Linked DNA regions of Homo sapiens. The protein of the gene in region 2 interacts with the protein of the main gene of each other region in a pairwise test. Each region holds a gene or a part of one and is shown on either strand. Other genes may lie near its edges.

The links.
Region 1: the proteins of CSNK1G2 (region 2) and RUNDC3B interact in a two-hybrid assay, tested with the Homo sapiens proteins (one large-scale study listed by BioGRID and IntAct).

What each region holds. Positions count from the first base shown.
Region 1 is NC_000007.14:87,827,247-87,830,543, forward strand, and holds part of RUNDC3B (RUN domain-containing protein 3B), read left to right. Parts: intron 1-2,638; coding exon 2,639-2,784; 3' UTR 2,785-3,297.
Region 2 is NC_000019.10:1,947,201-1,951,298, forward strand, and holds part of CSNK1G2 (casein kinase I), read left to right. Parts: intron 1-4,098. UniProt on the Homo sapiens protein: Serine/threonine-protein kinase. Casein kinases are operationally defined by their preferential utilization of acidic proteins such as caseins as substrates. It can phosphorylate a large number of proteins. Participates in Wnt signaling.

The DNA.
Region 1 (3,297 bases), on a different chromosome or scaffold from region 2:
GGAGGCTGAGGCGGGCAGATCACTTGAGGTCAGGAGTTCGAGACCAGCCTGACCAACATGGTGAAACACTGTCTCTATTAAAAATACAAAATTAGCCAGGTGCGGTGGTGGGCCCCTGTAATCCCAACTACTGGGGAGGCTGAGGCAGGTGAATTGCTTGAACCTGGGAGGCCGAGATTGCAGTGAGCTGAGACTGCGCCACTGCACTCAAGCCTGGGTGCTAGAGTGAGACTCTGTCTCAAAAACAAACAAACAAAACCAAAAAACACAAAGCAGGGTAGCAACCCTTATATCAGATGGGTAGATTTTAAACCAAAATGCATTAAGCATTACAAGGAAAGATATGTTTTAATGCTAAAAAAAATTAAGATATAACAGGATTATACAACAAATAATGATATCCCCCTTTATATAAGGAAACAGAAATCCAGTGACAGTTGAAGACATACTATTCTCAGTATAAGACAAATCAAATAGACAAAAAAGAATATAATACACCTAAACAACATAATTACTAGGGTATATCTTATGCTCTATGGAACTTTATAACCTGAAAATAGATAATATAACTTCTTCTTAAGTACAGATAGAACAGTCTCAAAAATGTTCAGAAGTTAGCTCATAAAGAAAACATAAGCTGGGTGCAGTGGTGCATGCCTGTAATCCCCCAGATACCTGGGTGGATTGTTTGAGCCCAGGAGTTCCTGACCATTCTGGGCAACACAGACCCTATCTCAAGAGAAAAAAGAAAGCAATAAATGTATAAAGTAAAATATTACAAACAGTATTCTCTAATCACAGTGCAAAAGAACCCTAGAAATTATTGATAACTTTTTTTTGTTGTTCAAAAGGGCCCCTCCACCTGGGTATAAACCCATCAAACAACTTGTGGGTAACAGGGAAATATAAGCTGAAATTAAATTTTCTTTTTTAAAATTATTATGTTCAGTAATTATTATACTGTCTTTTTTAAATATCAACTTTTATTTTAGATTCAAAGGGGTGTATTTGCAGGTTTGTTACATGGGTATATTGTGTGATGCTGAGGTTTAGGGTACAATTGATCCCATCACCCAAGTAGTTAGCATAGTACCCAACAGGTAGTTTTTCCACCCTTGCCCCCCACCACACCTCCCCTTCTAGTTGACCCCACTGTCTACCACTGCCATCTTTATATCCATGAGTATTCAGTGTTTAGCTCTCACTTATAAGAGATTATATGTGGTATTTGGTTTTCTATTCCTATGTTAATTCACTTAAGATAATGGCCTCTAGTTTCATCCATGTTGCTGCAAAGGACATGATGTCATTCCTTTTTTATGGCTGCATAGTAGTCCATGGTGTAGATGTACCACATTTTCTTTATCCAGTCCACTGCTGATGGGCTCCTAGGTTGATTCCATGTCTTTGCCATTGTGAATAGTGCTATGATGAACATATGAGTGCATATGTCTTTTTGGCAGAATGATTTATTTTCTTCTGGATATATACCCAGTAATGGGATTGCTGGGTCGAATGGTAATTCTGTTTTAAGTTCTTTGAGAAATCTTCAAATTGCTTTCCACAATGGCTGAACTAATTTGCCAGTAAATAAAAAGGGATTAACAAATGTGTAACAGGCAAATAGAAACACAAAGAAAGCAGCGTAGCAACCCTTATATCATGTCATTTGGTTTAAAATATCAGATTGTAAACCAAAATGCATTCCCTATTCTCAGTCACTTTGCCAACATCTGTTCTTTTTTGACTTTTAAAATAATAGCCATTGTGACTGGTGTGAGATGGTATCTCATTGTGGTTTTGATTTGCGTTTCTCTGATGATTACTGATGATGAGCATATATTCATGATTGTTGACCACTTCTGTGTCTTCTTTTGAGAAGTGTCTTCGTGTCTTTTGCTCACCTCTTAATGGGGTTATTTTTTGCTTGTTTAATGTTTAAGTTCCTTATAGATTCTGGATATCAGACATTTGTTGGATGCAGAGTTTACAAATATTTTCTCCCATTCTGGAGGTTGTCTGTTTACCCTGTTGATAGTTTCTTTTGCTGTGCAGAAGCTCTTTAGTTTAATTAGGTCCCTCTTGTCAATTTTTGGTTTTGTTGCAATTGCTTTTAAGGACTTACGTCATAAATTCTTTTCCTTATGTTTTATTTTTCTGCATATGGCTAGACAGCTATCCCAGCACCATTTATTGAATAGAGAGTCTTTTTCCCATTGCTTACTTTTGTCAACTTTGTCAAACATCAGATGGCTATACATGTGCAGCTTTATTTCTGGGTTCTCTATTCTGTTCCATTGGTCTTTGTGTCTGTATAACAGCACCTTTCTATTTTGGTTACAGCTTGAAGTTAGTTGATGTGATGCTTCTAGCTTTGTTCTTTTTTATTAAGATTGCTTTGGTATTTGTGCTTTTTGGTTCCATATGAACTGTAGGATTTTTTTTCTAATTCTGTGAAAAATGATGTTGGTACTTTAATGGGGATAGCAGTCAATCATGCAATTTGTTCTGTAGGTTTCTTTGGGCAGTATGGTCATTTTCACAGTATTGATTCTTCCAATTTCTAATGGTTTTAGGATCTTATTTGTATCATTCTTGAAGGGCAATTAATTATTTGCTATTTAATTCTAATTTTCAGGTAAGGAAGATACTCCCTCATTACTTGGCCTCTGTGGATCTCTAACGTCAGTGGCAAGTTACAAGTCTCTAACAAGCTTAAAATCTAATGACTACCTTGCAAGTCCTACAACAGAGATGACAAGTCCAGGCCTAACTCCATCCTGAAAATTTTTGTGTAAAAGCCAAAACTTTTTATGTTGTAAATGTTTAATTTACATGTTTGACTGCTGGGAAGACCTTTGAAATTTTATATTGTTCTGGTACATGTCTGAAATTCTATTGCTTGGAGAGAATCCCCTCCAGATAAGAGATTTTGAGTGAAAAACATAATGATCCTGCCATTTTTCATTTTTAAAATTCTTACATTTGTCATTGAGAAAGTTCAAAATGGAATAGGCTTTAAAAAAAAAAAAACTTTCAAAGATCCGCCAAATCATTCATAGCAAATTGTACATATTGTTCAGCTGATTTTTATATATTTAAATACACCTTAGTGGCCAGAGACTGACTTCAAGGTTTTATTCCAGAGACTCCAGAGACTTAAGCTAAGTATTTTTTCATTCTTTCAGATTTTCAAAAAAAAAAAAAAAAAAAGTTAATTTCATTTTTTCATTAATGTCTTCCTAAGTTCTATGCTTTAAATGCCTTGTTTTTAATAACGGGAAAGTTCTCAGCTGC
Region 2 (4,098 bases):
GAGTGAGGCACCCCAAGTCCTGGTCTGGATTCGTGGACAGAGTCCCTGCCTGTGAGGCCTGATGGCCAGTCCTCTCGCCTTGGCCGTGGTGCTTCAGGCCCTGTTGCAGGTGGGACCCGCCCTCCTTAGGGACCTTGTTTCCCAGGTGATGCTCATGTAATCTGCGGTGACCTCTGCCCCTTCCCATCTGACCTCTGTCCCCAGGAAAGATGGCAGGCGTGCGAGGGCTCATCCTGTCCGCGGCAGTTGTGCCCCTCGGGCTTCTGCTCCAGTGGTCCTGGGGCAGGGCAGCTGGCGCTGATGCCCAGGCTCTGCCTGGGGACAGTTCCCAGGACGGGAGCCTGAGGGCAGCGCACGGGACCAGCGTGAGGACACGGACTGGCCCGTGTCTGCCTCTGACTTGCTGGGTGTGCCTTTGAGTTCCTCTGAGGGTGGGTGCGCCGAGGGGGATCCAGCTGGGCCCTGGCCACGTGCAGGCCAGCCAGAGCCCTGGAGCCTGCAGGTGGGCTGGGACAGGGCTTGCGACCGCAGGGGTGGTGTGCGTTTGCGCTGGCGTCTGCACAGGTGTGTGCGTGCTGTGCCATCACGCTGGTCAGGCCTGTACGCCGTGGAGAGGGGCGCTGTGTGGGGCTCGCTGCCTGAGCCCTGGGTGGACCGTGGCTGCCCCATGAGTTGTCGGGGACCTCCGCTGCCCCTTGGACCTCGCCCGCGGCCCTGGGCAATGGGTGTGGTGACGTCCTGGGGCCCCCATGAGTCAGCTCGTCCTCGTGCCCGGGCACTGGCCTCTCCTTCCTGTGGGCGCACAGCCCCGGTTCCTCTGAAAGCTTCGTGGGCCGGGACCCGGGATGAGCTGGTTAAACCCTGGCCCTGTGAGCAGGAGGTGTGGCTTCGGGGGGCGGCCCCGCCCTGGGCTCAGACTTGATCCTGCACCGGAGGGAGCCATTCTGGAAGGCCGCTGCCCCGGGCCCTGTCCCTCCCCCTCTCATCCCCAGGGTGCTGGCCAGAGCCGGGCTCACAGCGTTTCTTAAAATTAACGATCCCGGCCGGGCGTGGTGGCTCACGCCTGTAATCCCAGCACTTTGGGAGGCCGAGGCGGGTGGATCACGAGGTCAGGAGATCGAGACCATCCTGGCTAACACAGTGAAACCCCGTCTCTACTAAAAAGACAAAAAATTAGCCGGGCGCGGTGGCAGGCGCCTGTACTCCCAGCTACTCGGGAGGCTGAGGGAGGAGAATGGCATGAACCCGGGAGGCGAAGCTTACAGTGAGCTGAGACCGCGCCATTGCACTCCATGTGGGCGACAGAGTGAGACTCCGTCTCAAAAAAAAAAAAAAAAAACGCAAAAAAAAAAAAGATCCCGTCACACTGACCCAGCTCACTGTTCTCTTACCAGCCTTATTTCGGTGTGGTCCTTAGAGCATGAGCCACTTTTTTTTGCTGGGAACATAATCCACGTTTGGTAAAATTCGGCAACGTGTGCACGCAAGTGGTTTTTGTACAGCTGACCCTTGAGCAGGGTGGGGTTTAGGGCAGCAGCCCCTCATGTAGCAAAATACCCTCGTATAGCTTTCGAGTCCTCCAGATGCCGCTGCCGACAGCCTGCTGGTGACCAGAGGCCTCGGGAGGACACGTGGTCCGCGCACACATACCTCGTGTGTTGTGTTAGGTGCTGCGTTCTCACAGTGAGGGAAGCTGGAGACCAGAACATGTGGAGAAAAGCAGAAGGAAGAGAAACCCTGTTTGCTCTTCACGCAGTGGAAGTAATGCTCATGGAAGCCTCTGTCCTCGTCGTGTTCACGTTGAGGGCTGAGGAAGGGAGGGTGGGTCTCGCTGTCTCGGGTGGCAGAGCGGGAAGGAGCCAGGAGAGGCTGGCGCCCTCAGGGCAACCTTTATTGAAAAAATCCACGTCAGAGTGGACCTGTCAGTTCAAACCTGCCGTGGTCAAGGCTCCTCTGTGAGTGCAGCCACCACCTGTAATTCCAGAGTGTTCTCATCACCTGCAAAGGGAGCCCTGGCCCCATCAGCAGCCAGCCTTCCACACCATCCTTTCCAGAACCTTCCCACCTTCCCAAATTGAGACGCTGTCTTCGTGAAACGTTCACTCCCGTGCCCTCTCCAGCCCCTGGCACCCCCATCCTACTTTCTGGCTCTGTGACTCTGAGGGCTCCAGGGACCTCCTAGGGGTGGAATCACACGGGATGAGGCCTGGTGTGTTTGGCGTCTCTCACTGAGTGTGACACCCTCGGTGCATCCGCGCCATGGCCCGCGTCCGAGTCTCGCTCCTGTTCGTGGCTGAGTCGTGTTCCGGCGTGTGGGTGGCCACGTGTTTATTTCTGTGATAGATGTTTGCATGGCATCCGCGTGTGGCTGCTGCGAGCACCCGTGTCCGGTTCCCGTGTGGCTGCGTGATTCTTCTGTCAGGTGGACTTCTAGCGGTGGAACCGCTGGTCACAGGGCCACTCCCGGTTGGACCATTTGAGGAGCCGCAGACGGCCATCCATACCTGCACTGTTTGGGTCCCCTGCCGGGTTTTGGGGACTGGATCTCTGCACAGCGACGACCACTCCCCTCTTCCGGTGACTTGGTTTCTCCTGTCCTTCGGCCCGATGCTTCTCTGGCCTGCAGGGCATCAGGGACCCTGCTGTCCTGATCCCCATGCCGTCTAGAAAGCCAGGGGTCCTGCATGTGCCCGGTGTCCCCACTGCCTTGTCAGGCACAGGGCCAGATCCTGCACCCTGTGACGAGCACGGCCAGTGGGACAGACAGATGGATGTGCTGCCCGTGACCTTCGCCACAGCGAGTTCAGAGGCCGGAGGCATCCAGTGTCCACAGAGTGACCGGTAGGCCCCAGCCCCACAGGATCATCGAGGTGGCCCTGGCCTTTCGAGGCCACAAAAATCAACGTTTATTTTTATTTATTTTATTTATTTATATATTTATTTATATATTTATTTATGAGACGGAGTCTCGCTCTGTCCCCCAGGCTGGAGTGTGGTGGCGTGAGCTCTGCTCACTGCAAGCTCTGCCTCCCGGGTTCACACCATTCTCCTGCCTCAGCCTCCCGAGTAGCTGGGACTACAGGCACCCGCCACCACACCCAGCTAATTGTTTGTATTTTTAGTAGAGACGGGGTTTCACTGTGTTTGCCAGGATGGTCTTGATCTCCAGACCTCGTGATCCGCCCTCCTCGGCCTCCCAAAGTGCTGGGATTACAGGCGTGAGCCACCGCGCCTGGCCATCAATGTTTATTTTTAAGTAGCAAAAGAGAACTCAGCAGTGTTGGAGAACTTGAACATTACAGCAACATCTGAAGAAGATGTTCTTTCACAAACCTCAGATTCCAGGAGATGAGCACCGTCCGCTTTCCAGAGAAAATTGTCTGAGGCCTCTGGGAGACAGGAGGGGGTGCACTTAGAAACAGCCAAGGCCTCCTTCCATGTTGGGACGGACGGGCCTTCCTGGGCTGGCCCGGCCTAAATCTGCTGCCGCCCACCGAACACCAAGGCACCTTCTCGTGCCCCAGAGGCCACCAGCACCCGTCCCCCTGCCTCCCTCCAGCCAGTGTCAGGTGGGGACCTGGCCGCTGGAAGGGAGGTGTCACCTGCTCTGGGGCATCCAGGAGGGAGGGGCTGCGGGAGTTTTGCTGGAGACCCTCCAGGTGGGGGTTATGGGGTATCATGGCGGAGCGTGTTGGGAAGTTTTCGGTGAGCTGGGCGTTTATTCGCCTTGGTGCCCCCCTAGATCCCTGGGTGATCCCCGTGCCCAGTTTTCAGGGGAGACCATGGGGGTCAGAGAGCTGGCCAGGCGGGTGGTCTGTGTCTGTCCCCTGCTGTTGAAATGAGGGGAGGTGAGAGGAGACGCCGTGTGCCTGGGGAGGCAACACTTTCTACCGTTTGCTGGTTTATAAAAATCAAAGATGGCCAGGCACGGTGGCTCACGCCTGTAATCCCAGCACTTTGGGAGGCCGAGACGGGCAGATCACGAGGTCAGGAGATTGAGACCATCCTGGCTCTACTAAAATACCCTGTCTCTACTAAAAAAAATACAAAAAATTAGCCGGGCGTGGTGGCGGGCGCCTGTAGTCCCAGCTACTCGGG